Linked DNA regions of Homo sapiens: all the other regions are linked to region 2. Evidence: fine-mapped expression QTL. A gene starts in region 2. Each other region holds a variant in brackets. All regions are shown on one strand. Distances are from middle to middle.

Region 1 (4,354 bases), 100 kb after region 2:
GGGGGCTCAGGCATGGCAGGCTGCAAGTCCTGAGCCCTGCCCTGTGGGGAGGTGGCTGAGGCCTGGCAAGAATTCGAACATGGCGCGGGTGGGCTGGCAGTGCTGAGGGACCTGGCACACCCTCTGCAGCTGCTAAGCCCAGGTGCTAAGCCCCTCACTGCCCAGGGCCGGCAGCGCTGGCTGGTTGCTCTGAGTGCAGGGCCCACTGAGCCCACGCCCACCTGGACCTCACGCTGGCCCAAAAGCGCCACGCACAGCCCCGGTTCCCACCCACGCCTCTCCCTCCACACCTCCCTGCAAGCAGAGGGAGCTGGCTCCAGCCTCAGCCAGCCCAGAGAGGGGCTCCCACAGTGCAGTGGCGGGCTGAAGGCCTCCTTAAGCATGGCCAGAATGGACGCCAAGGCCAAGGAGGCACTGAGAGGGAGCGAGGGCCGGCCGCATGTTGTCACCTGTCAATATCCTAAACCTTTGTGGGAACTTTGTCTTTCTGCTTGAAGCGGTTCCTTCAAACCTTGCAAATTTTTTCCTAGTCCCATACCAGGGACATACCCCATTTCATGCATCATATGTTGACTTTGTGGGGTATATAATTGTTCTGGAATTAGAACTTGTGCTCCCCATTGTTGTAATAAATCTCTTCCCCATACATTTATAGGTACAGAAGTTATAATTGGTTGAATAGTTCCAGGTTGTCCATCGGGCCCTTCACAATGCAAAATATAACTACTTTGATATACTTCAGGGGCATTACCAACTCCAACTATGTTAAATTGAGTGAGTTGAATTGGCCACATGGACAGTCAGTGCTGTAGGGAAATGATTGAAATGTCCACTCCTGTATCTACCAAACCTTTAAATTTCTTTCCCTGAATAGTTATTTCACAGGTAGGACGTTTATCAGTAATTTGATTCACCCAATAAGCCACTTTGCCTTGTTTATTTGGGCTTCAAAATCCTCTTGTCTGTTTAATTTCACTTTTCCCCATTTCCACATATGGCACAATCAGGAGCTGTGCTGTACACTCTCCTGCTCTGCTTTCCAGGGAACAGATGTAGATACAACAATTTGAATTTCACCATTGTAATCTGAATCAATTACTCCTGTATGTATTTGTACTCCTTTTACATTTAAACTAGACCTTCCTAGAAGCAATCCTATCATCCCCACTGGCAAGGGTTCACAGACTCCTGTTGGGACATTTTGCAGGGGTTCCCCAGGCAGAAGGCTCACAGCTTTTGTGCAGCATAAATCTACTGTGGCACTACCAGCTGTGGTGGGGGACAGACATTGTACAGGGGTGAAGGAATGGCCTGAGCCAGAAATGCCCTGGTTTGGAATGGGGCCCAGGATGGGCCCCTCATGGTGTTTCCTGAATTTAAAAGGAAAAGGCTCAAATGTTGATCTGGGGGGGGGGGGGTGTATTCTAACAGAAAACTGCCAAGCTTCTATATCACCCTCTCGTCTAGCTTGCTGAATTCCTGCCAGAATAGAACTGACAGCGGTCACTCAAGGAGCTGCTTGAACAGTCACTGGGGCAACTACTTTTCTCCCAGGGTCCTCCAGAAAAGAAAGATCTGGAGGGTCAGGCCACTCTTTTTCTTCAAAATAAGGAGGGGGTGCAGAAGGGTAGGGATGAACCTCTTCCTCCTTTGCTGCTTTAGCTTTAGCTGGCAAACAAACCTGGTCTGTTACTTTGTTATACTTTCCTTCCTCCTCATCATTAGTGTGAAAAGGTTCCAAGGTGGAATGAACCAGAGCCCACACTTGTCTCATTGTTACCCTGATGCTTCTGAGCTACCCTTTTTACTCAACACGGGCATTGCTTAAGAGTACTCCGGTGTCCTCCAGCTTAGTTCCAGGTTTTCCAGCCATCACTCTGGTGACCCTTCAACCTGGGTTCGAGCCTCCATGTTGGGCGCTGCTTACCAAGACCAGCTCAGTTGTGGAGACCTTAACCCAGAGGCACTAGAGGAATTAAAGACACACACACAGAAATATCGTGTGTGGAGTGGGAAATCAGGTCTCACAGCCTTCAGAGCTGAGAGCCTTGAACAGAGATTTACCCACGTATTTAATGACAGCAAGCCAGTGATAAACATTGTTTCTATAGA[T/C]TATAGATTAACTAAAAGTATTCCTTATGGGAAATAAAGGGATGGGCTGAAATAAAGGGATGGGTCTGGCTAGTTATCTGCAGCAGGAACATGTCCTTAAGGCACAGATCCCTCATGCTATTGTTTGTGGTTTAGGAATACCTTTAAGTGGTTTTCCAGCCTAGGTGGGCCAGGTGTTCCTTGCCCTCATTCTGGTAAACACAACCTTCAGCGTGGGTGTCATGGCCAACATGAACATGTCACAGTGCTGCAGAGATTTTGTTTGTGGCCAGTTTGGGGGCCAGTTTATGGCCAGACTTGGGGGCCTGTTCCCAACACGTTTTCTTCAAGTTTTTTACTTTTTATTATGATTGGATAAAAGATGTTTTATTATGCATGCTGTAGTCCAGGATTCATTGTTTTTATTTTCTTGTAAACATTTTAGGTGACAAAGTTGACATTCTGCTTCCTTCTCATTTTCACAAGATGTGAGCAATTTGAAAATAAAACATTTTCTTAAAAGACTCAGCCTAAATGGAGTGAAATAACTAAAAATTAAATATAATTCCTACAAGTTATTTTGCCTAATGTTACCAATGTCTGCGTACCAAACAATTCTACAAAGATGAGAATTATAAGTAAATTTCTATTATTCTACCTTGCATTATTATTTAAGGTCTCATAAATATTTGTTGTTTTAGAAGGATATATTTTATTTCATAAAACTCTCCGGTGAATGCATCTTCTCTTAATATTTTAATTAGCATTAATCTGTTTTCCTTTTTATTTAACTTTTCATAATTATGAATTGTTGCAGCATTTTCCTTTTGAGAAATTGGGAGAACTCAGAGAATTTCAATATATAACTGAGAGAATTTCACTCTACAAAGTACGTAAGGAAATCTTCTACTTCAAGTTACATCTACATGTTTTAAAGTGAATATTAGATATTAACAATCAGTCTTAATAACTAATTTTGTTAATATTACTAAGATTGGTAACCTCATTTGATATGATGATAACTTAGCCACCTGATCATTGATCCTGCATAGGTCTAGAGGTGACAAAATTTTTTTTTCTTTCTTTCTTTCCTTCTTTCTTTTTTTTTTTAAATTATATTTTAAGTTCTAGGGTACATGTGCACAACGTGCAGGTTTGCTACTTAGGTATACATGTGCCATGTTGGTTTGCTGCACTCATCAACTCGTTATTTACATTAGGTATTTATTCTAATGTTATCCCTCAGCCCCCTACCTCCAGACAGGCCCCGGTGTGTGATGTTTCCTGCCCTGTGTCCAAGTGTTCTCATCTTTCAGCTCCCACCAATGAGTGAGAACATGCGGTGTTTGCTTTTCTGTCTTTGTGATAGTTTGCTGAGAATGATGGTTTCCAGCTTCATCCATGTCCCTGCAAAGGACATGAACTCATCCTTTTTTATGGCTGCATAGTATTCCATGGTGTATATGTTCCACATTTTCTTAATCCAGTCTATCATTGATGGACATTCGAGTTGGTTGCAAGTCTTTGCTATTGTGAAAAGTGCCACAATAAACATACGTGTGCATGTGTCTTTATAGCAGCATGATTTATAATCCTTTGGTTATATACCAAGTAATTGGATCGCTGGGTCAAATGGTATTTCTAGTTCTAGATCCTTGAGGAATCCCCACACTGTCTTCCACAATGGTTGAACTAATTTACACTCCCACCAACAGTGTAAAAGCGTTCCTATTTCTCCACATCCTCTCCAGCATCTGTTGTTTCCTGATTTTTTAATGATTGCCATTCTAGCAGGCATGCGATGATATCTCATTGTGGTTTTGATTTGCATTTCTCTGATGACCAGTGATGATGAGCATTTTTTCATGTGTCTGTTGGCTGCATAAATGTCTTCTTTTGAGAAAAGTCTGTCCATATCCTTTGCCCACTTTTTGATGGAGTTGTTTGTTTTTTTCTTGTAAATTTGTTTGAGTTCTTTGTAGATTCTGGATATTAGCCCTTTGTCAGATAGGTAGATTGCAAAAATTTTCTCCCATTCTGTAGGTTGCCTGTTCACTCTGATGGTAGTTTCTTTTGCTGTGCAGAAGCTCTTTAGTTTAATTAGATCCCAATTGTCTGTTTTGGCTTTTGTTGCCATTGCTTTTGGTGTTTTAATCATGAAGTCCTTGTCCATGCCTATGTCCTGAATGGTATTGCCTAGGTTTTCTTCTAGGGTTTTTATGGTTTTGGGTCTAATATTTAAGTCTTTAATCCATCTTGAATT
Region 2 (4,000 bases):
TGTGGTTTGCTAACTCCTGTTTTAGAGTGTGATTCTACAAATGTGAACCCTGAATCTGAGCTTGCATATCACCTGGGAACTTGTTAAGAATGAAAATTCTTTAAAAATGTCTGAATTAGAAACTCTGGGGAATGGGGTCCAGCCATCTTTTTTTCTAGAAGCCTTGCTGGTGATTCTGAGCTGGTGATTCTGAAGACCACTGCTATATGTCATCTGCGCCTATATCTACATTTAGATAGATATAGATTTATGTATTTGTTTATTTATTTTGGGGGCATACTGTTCCCACCCCTGCATGCTGATGCCCCAGACTTCTTTTTCCGCAAGCAGTAAGGCCTTCATTTAAAGGAAAATCGCTTTGTATTTCCCTTTCATTCACCATTGAAAGTAATATCCAAAATGGCTACATTCTGAGAAGAAATTTAACAACTTTCCTATTCACAGAAGTCTCAGGATTTCGAGAACGTGGGATTGGCAATGGAATTTCTGTAAGTATTGTTTTTGTTGAACAGGTACCTTGGGAGAAAGGAGAGGAGCAGCACTGAAAATGTTTCCTCAAGCCTCACCTACTCCCAGGTGTCTTGGCGGGGACTCCAGGAACAAATGCCTTCAAAATGAGGAGATAATTTCATTTCCATCGCTATCCTCATTACCAAATTGAAACCGGAGATAATGGCTTTCATGTCACCTCACTTGCCAAGATACACTCAAAACCCGTCAAGTCAGGTTGTCAAAACGACACCAGCAGCTAAAACATACAAAGAGCCTCGGCCTCCATCGCCACAATCCCTGGCGGATGCAGCACCAGAAACAGCAGCCGTGGCGTCTCAAAGTTTACGCACGCGTTTTTCAAAATTAAAACTATGCATCTGCAAATCACTCTGGCTGGCTTAAACCTCTTTTTCCCTTTCTATGCCAACACCGGGGAGAAGATCGTCCCAGACGCCATTCGCCCATTTCTGATACCACTGAAGTCATGAGCAGGTCTAACAAAATAAAACATCACCCAGCCGTCGGGAAGTAGAAGACTCCTGTTGCCAAGGAGAAACTAAGTTCTGCTCCTCCTAAGGCGCAAAAATGACCTCGAGATCTCCCCAGAAGGAAGCAGAGAGGAGGGAGTTCTGCCACATGGAGAGGGTTTTGCTGGGCTAGGGAGACACCGCCGGGCTCAGCCTTTCCCTTCCTTTCTCTAACTTTCCCTCATTTCGCTCCGCAAACTGAGTTATATCTCGGGGCTGTGGAAGGAATCCAATTTGGGGAACTCAGCAGCAAACCTTCCTGGCCCAGGGCGCAGCTCGCCTGGCGCCGCGTCCATCCCGATCCGCTCCACCCTTCCCGCCCCGCATCCGCGGCCGGACAGTCTCAGTGCCCTGCTGCCTCGGGGCCCGGGGACTCACAATTACGGGCAGAGAACACATAGTGAAGAGCACGGTCATCAGCGCCAGCAGCAGGAGGTGATCCAGCTCCTCCAGGGGCTGAGGGGACGCTTCCCTCCCGTCCGCGCGCGGCTCGGCACAGTCCCTGGTGCAGGAGCGCGGGTGCCGCTGCAGCCGCCGGTGCATCGCATAGAGGTTGCGCATGGCGCCGAGGTTGCACAGCACGGTGGCGAGGACCAGCAGCGCCATGAGGCTGGAGTAGAGCACAGAGTACCCCAGCACCGACAGCGAGCCCTCCTCGTGGACCATCTGGATAAAGCACCAGGTGCCGGGGCAGTACTGCACGAACTTCCCGAAGCCCATGAAAGGTAGCGCGCAGAAAGCCAGGGAGAAGGCGCTCACCACCGGGGCCACCAGTGCGCCCAGGCGCAGGGTGATGTGCCGTCGGTAGAAGAAAGGGTGCCCTAGGGAGAGCCAGCACTCCAGTGCCATGGCCAGGAGTTGCAGTGTCGAGGAGAGCCCAAAGAAGGACATGAAGAAGGCGAAGGCTTGGCACAACGAGTTGTCCAATGCGGGCGCAAGCACCCGCAGACTCCGGTTCTGAGCGTAGGCAGCCAGCACCACCGGGCTTAGGAGGCACTTGCCCAGCAAGTCGGTGACCGTCAGGCCACACACCAGCATGTAGAAGACCGAGGGCAGCGGGCGCAGTGGACGCCGCGAGCACCACCCCAGCCCCGAGCGCGCCAGCAGCCCCAGGGCCAGCAGGTTGCCCAGGAGGCCGGTGCTGAAGAGCACCCCGCCCATCACCGCCGAGTTGCCTTTTTCCACAGAGGTGGTGTTCTGGCAGCGGTAGAACGGCGACTTCATGGCGTGCGGGAGCAGAGGGCTGGAGTGAAGGCTGCGGAAGGGCGAGGGCCCCGGCGCCCGGGTGCTAAGGAGCCCCCGGCAGCTCCGCGCGCGGCTCGGGCGGAGAAGCTGCGCCACAGAAAAAGCTCCGAGGGCGGCGGGGTGTTCCCCACGGCAGGAACCTCCTATCTAAACTCGCGGGTCACACCCCTCTTTGAGAGGCGGGACGCTCTGCAGGGTGAGCGCCTGGCGCTGGCATTGAAGAGCGCGGAGCAGGCCAGTGAAGAGCTCGGCCCTGACGCGCTGCGTTCTCAGTAGAGACAGACTCTGGTGCCGAGTCGGAACGGCAGGAGGAAAATAGCCAGAATTCCAAGCACCCAACACCAGTCCTTCTAGCGAGGCAAGAGAAGAACTACTAAAGTGGAGGGGAAATTAAGCAGCAGCCACCTGAGAGGAGGGCAATGGTGCTGGTGTTTGAACTGGGGTGGCCAAGAACTCGAAAGATGAGCGAAGAGGGGAGGCTGAGAAAGGGCTTCTACCTAGTTGTCTTGAATTAGCTAGTCAAGGAAAGGTAAAGATAACTCACGTCTGGAAAGCCCCTGAGCCTTAGCTCCTCTTCTCTACTAGATCAGCGCAATTTGGGGCATTCACGGTCATCTCCATTGCATAGGCGAGGAAACTGAGGCCTTGGAAAGTTAAGTGATCTGCCCGTGGTGACAGAGCTACAGAAGTAGCAGAGCCGGACCTCTCACCCGATCTTCTATTTTGGAGTTCATCTGTCCTGTTCCCATGACTCCTCCTCCCAAGAAGTTGTCCAGATTTCAGGGAAGTGGTTTGTGGGAAAGCCAAGAGCCGGTGTTGGTCCTGGGTGCCATGAATCACATTGACTGTAGAGAGCTGGGGGGAAGGGCATGGTTAGCAGCACTGTTGCTGTCATCAGATAGGCCTGGGTTTGAGTCCAGGTTCTGCTCCTCACTGTGTGTGTGACCTTATGGGACTTGCTTAGCCTCTCAAGCAGTAACATCTATCTGGCCTGCTTGGCTCTTCTGAGGCATAGAAATAACACGTAAAGAGCAAGTACATAGAAAGTGCTCAATTCATGCAATCACCATGATTCTTATTTGATAGAAGGGTGTTTTGGTAGCTGATGTTTAACTGCAGTTTTTAGCATGGATTTTGAAATCAGAAAATGGTAGATTTGGCATAGAGCTTTCTCACTCCTCTGATTTGTGGCTACTAGAAAAAATTTATTCCTGTTTGGGCTTTGACTTGGCTGCATCATAAAGGCAAGGGAGTTAATTGTGATAAGCGTGATTTTATATCTTTAACTAGCATTCGATGCCCTGTGAGAGAAATTGGCTTTGAGTGTGGAATCTCAGTGGGATGACTAAGGTTTTGTTATGTAAGTGAGTAGATGATGCCTGGGCTTGAAACGGCTCATTTTTAGGCCTCATGCCAGTTCTGATGGACAGACTCAGGGAAAGAGCAAGACCCTTGGGATTTAGATGTGAAAGCCTGAAGGGTAGACAGAGAGGCTGCCTCCAGACTGAAAGTCTGGCCAGTAATTCAGGCCACAGGGTGGAAAAGAAGAATCTAAGCTTGGAATTAGATAGTTCTGAACTCCACCACTGGCTGTGTGACCCTGGGTTAGTTGTTCAACCTAATGGAATATGAGACTTATGCTGAACTTGTGGGGTTGTTGTGAGGTTGAGAAAACTTGAAGTGCTTTGGCATAGTGTAATAATAATAATAAGAGCTAATATTTATTGGTCCTGATG
Region 3 (4,354 bases), 95 kb after region 2:
CAGCCTGGCCAACATGGTGTAACCCCGTCTCTACTAAAAATACAAAAATTAGCCACACATAGTGGTGCACACCCGTAGTCCCAGCTACTCAGGAGGCTGAGGCAGGAGAATAGCTTAAACCCAGGAGGCAGAGGTTGCAGTGAGCTGAGATCATGCCACCGCACTCCAGCCTGGGTGACAGAGCAAGACTCCATCTCAAAAACAAACAAACAAAAATCTCACTAAAAGAACAGTAAAGGAATTGAGAAATTAAAGTCCATGAAGACAGAAGGAAAATGGAGATGCAGCACATACATGTTTTGGCCAAATGCTAAATGGGTGAATGTTAAAATCAATGTTTGTCCAAAACCAAGGCTAACACCAAATAGCACCATCATTTGATTAAATTTCTGAGATATGAGAATAAGTGTAAAGTTTCAGTTAATATTTCAATTTTCAATTTTATTATGAAAAATTTTAGTAGTCAAATATTTGAAATTTGACATTGTTGAGCAGAAACCCAATTTTCTCAGCACTGTCAGCTGTGGAATGCTCCAAGGGTCACTATATTGCACATTGGCAATACTAAAGGCATTGCTGGTTTTAACTGAGGTGAGTAGAGTGGAAGATTTTTTTTTGTTGTTGTAGAGACAGAGTCTCACTCTGTCACCCTGGCTGGAGGGCAGTGGTGTGATCTCGGCTCACTGCAAGCTCCGCCTCCTGGGTTCACACCATTCTCCTGCCTCAGCCTCTCCAGTAGCTGGGACTACAGGCACCCGCCACCACACCTGGCTAATTTTTTGTATTTTTAATAGAGACGGGGTTACACCATGTTAGCCAGGGTGGTCTTGATCTCCTGACCTCATGATCCACCCACCTTGGCCTCCCAAAGTGCTGGGATTACAGGTGTGAGCCACCGTGCCTGGCCAAGTGGAAGATTTTAGTAGTAGTAGTAGTAGTAGTAGTAGTAGTAGTAGTAGTAGTAGAAGCATTTTGGCTAGCTCTGCCAGTGTGGGATAATTACTGATTGTAATGTTAACACTAAGTTACCAAGTCTTTTTCCCTCTCTAATAGTAACTGCCTAAAGCAGAGAGTTAACTCATCTTTGGTTTCTGCAATTAAAACTTAAATGATGGTGATAATGCAATTTCATTGAGGCAAACCACTTCCTTTAAACGAGGCTTAAATATATTTAGAAAGAGACTTAATATCACTGCCCTTCTTTCTTTTTCTTTTTTTGGGGGATAGGTGGGCAGATAGGCATTGGATGGTTTATCAAAACTTTATCAAAAGTTTTGTACTTATATCCTGATCTAGAAATGTGGCAATGGATAGATGCAATTGGCTTTGAAAGTTAGAAAATTTCTCTTTAAATTTCCATTTGTATCTCAATTTTTATTGTATGCACTCTAATTCCAGCATCTATCCTGGAATAGAAGGATAGATGGAGCTTTACAACAGGTCACATATAAAAGATACTTGGCCTCTCAAGGCACATCAGTTTGGTATACTCTATAGCATACTCCAGGATACAAGCTGCTTTTTCTGCAAACAACTGTTGGATTTTTGATCTGCTAGATTGACAGAAAAAAAACTTCCTGAATTATAATCTTCTCCATGTTGTTTACAATGTCCTAATTCTGTATTTTGTATTTGACATTTGGACATGTCATGTGTGACCACTTGGTGAATTAATGTTGATTATTGTTGACCTCTGCTTCTATTTCACTTGGCTGCCAAGAGCCTTCTGGGTCTCACACAGTTAAAATCACATTAAACCTAACTGAGGAGATATTTACATAATGGAAAGTCAGTGAAGAAAAGTGTTAGGCAATTGTCAATGACAATATGACAGCCATGATGGAGGCTATTGATTATTTGGGAGCCACAAGCATCTGATGTGTTGGCCATAGGCTTGGTTGTGTGTTCAGACAGTGATGATAGCACAGAGTAAGGTAACAGAAGTATTAGAAGTAGACAGTGAGAGAGTGGGCCCCTTGCCTTAATCTTCATCTCAATCTACCTGAATACAAGGGATTTGGAACTGCCTTGTCTACTCATTCAACTTGTTGATTTAAGATGGAATGAAAGCTGTGCAATGTTAAAGAAGCTGTTTGAACAAAAACAAGTCTTAATACTGCTTTTCTGTGTAACATTGCCAGCCTAGTAGGACCAAAATTCACCAACTGATATGCCTAGTTTTTCTGTGAGGAACTTTTGTACCTAGAATTCATAGCTTCAGCAAATTGCCAAAAAATGTTTTCTGTTTGATTATTGCAAATAGTTGGCAGTACATGGCAATTATTTTGACAAGTTTCCATTTAAATTTTTGGCCTCTATAA[G/A]AGACTCAAAATTATAAAGTGTTTTAATTAAGGAGATTTGGAAGTTTTGCTATTTGAAGTTTTATTACTAGAAAAATTGTTAATTAGTAGAAACATTTCTCCATTTTGCTGAGACCAGCTCAGTCATGGAGACCCTAACCCAGTGGCACTAGAGAAGCTAAAGACACACACACAGAAATATTGTGTGTGGAGTGGGAAATCAGGGGCCTCACAGCCTTCAGAGCTGAGAGCCTTGAACAGAGATTTACCCACATATTTATTGACAGCAAGCCAGTGATAAACATTGTTTCCATAGATTATAGACTAACTGAAAGTATTCCTTATGGGAAATAAAGGGATGGGTGTGGCTATTTATCTGCAGCAGGAACATGTCCTTAAGGCACAGATTGCTCATGCTATTGTTTGTGGTTTAAGAACACCTTTAAGTGGTTTTCTGGCCTGGGTGGGCCAGGTGTTCCTTGTCTTAATTCCGATAAACCCACAACCTTCAATGTGGTTGTCATGGACACCATGAACCTGTCACAGTGCTGCAGAGATTTTGCTTGTTTCCAGTTTTGGGGTCCTGCTCCCAGCATGTCCCCCTTCTTTGTTTTGCAAAGTGAAACAAAGGCAGCTTTGTCACAGGAGTGTGGATCTGCATCTGCAGACTATACAAAGACAAACAACACAGATTAAAAGCACAATCATCATTGAAATCACAGAGCTTCCCAGTGTTTTTATCCATTTCAATGGGTTACTAGCTGCTAATCTGTCTGCAGCTCCTTCAAGCACTCCAGTTCCTGACATTAAGGTCAGGTGTGCCTGAGATGCTTTAAATATTTGTTCTTTTAATTTTGCAATATCCAAAGACAAGTTTGTAGAGTGTCCTTATAGATGCTTTTTTATTCTTTCCCAAATTTTGATCTTGTTAAGAGCTATTAATAGTTTCCACAAAGCCTTATGTTTAGCTCCTACAACTGGCCATATCATTTGAGGTTGAGGTGCCACTGTACTGCCATGTTTCCAGATAATAGGAACTCTTGCCATACTTCTTACCATTTCTACCATCTGACCATTTTGTTCAGACCAGCTGAACACGGTGTGGCTGTGGCATGCCGACTGAGAGGTGCAATTCAAGCTAAACATCCCCTTAGGGGGCCAATCAATAATGATTCCATAGGAATCATTGCGCAGCACCTCTGCCTGTTCTGCAATGCAATCTTCCTTAACAAGTACATTCATTTTTTCTGGCCAGGTCCAATCCTGTTTACAAATAGGTTTTTGAGGGCAGTTTGCCTTAATTGTAGGAGCAGATTCATTATGATAAATGCTGATATCAGAAAGCATGTGTAACTGTGTCATAGAGTGATTACATCCAGGCATTATTGCCAGCCAAGATTGACAAATGTGCCCAATAAGTATGATTGTTCTCTGTGTCAGTCCTTGTTGAAGGAATACTCATAGCAATGGTGATCACCAGTATCATAGCTACCATTAAATTACTCATTGTGACTGGTTGTCCCGCTTTCCTCAGGTTTTCTTCTGCCATCTGTGACAGCTTCTTGATCTGTCCCCAAGTAGGTGGCTGTGTTTGACAGGTGTTGCTTGTGACAGTTGGGGTCCTCCTGCATCAGTCTCAACATGGCTGCAACTGAGGGGTCCTTGGGATCCTCCCAAAATCTCTTCCTTGGCATCTGGCTCCTGATAAGGTTTCAGATATCTTGATGGTATCCAAATCGGCTATTGATTCAGTCCTGGAGAAACACAAGCATAACCTCTACCCCAAGTTATTATTTTACATATTTCCCAACTTTTTGTTATTGGATCTCTCCACCAAACCAGTTGTTCTGCTTCTGTCTTTGCAGCTGGTTTCTGTAGATGCTGTTCAGCTGCTGATAATATCTGGCCTTTAGGCAGGCTCAAAAAATTTAAAGTTAATAATGCTAGATTCAATTGCATATGGGGTGTCCCTTAGTCCCTGTTTTCCCCCCTCTGCTTTTGCAACTGCTGTTTCAGAGAGATTCATTCTTTCCACTATGGCTTCTCCTTGAGAA

What was found. PIP is the estimated chance that this variant, and not a neighbour inherited with it, causes the effect. A credible set is the group of variants that fine-mapping cannot tell apart.
Region 1: its variant is the best candidate, but not a certain one, in a credible set for the expression of PTGDR in whole blood (INTERVAL, PIP 0.71).
Region 3: its variant is the best candidate, but not a certain one, in a credible set for the expression of PTGDR in whole blood (INTERVAL, PIP 0.75).

The regions. Positions count from the first base shown.
Region 1 is chr14:52,162,674-52,167,027 of GRCh38, reverse strand. No RefSeq gene overlaps it. Among named protein-coding and RNA genes, the nearest start is that of LINC02319, 39 kb to the right of the region's middle. The variant T/C (reference allele first, on the strand shown) is at 2,113.
Region 2 is chr14:52,266,058-52,270,057 of GRCh38, reverse strand. PTGDR (prostaglandin D2 receptor) reads right to left here and starts at 2,360. Exons shown (of 2, transcript NM_000953.3): 1 at 1,398-2,360. The coding sequence starts at 2,243.
Region 3 is chr14:52,170,651-52,175,004 of GRCh38, reverse strand. No RefSeq gene overlaps it. Among named protein-coding and RNA genes, the nearest start is that of LINC02319, 47 kb to the right of the region's middle. The variant G/A (reference allele first, on the strand shown) is at 2,322.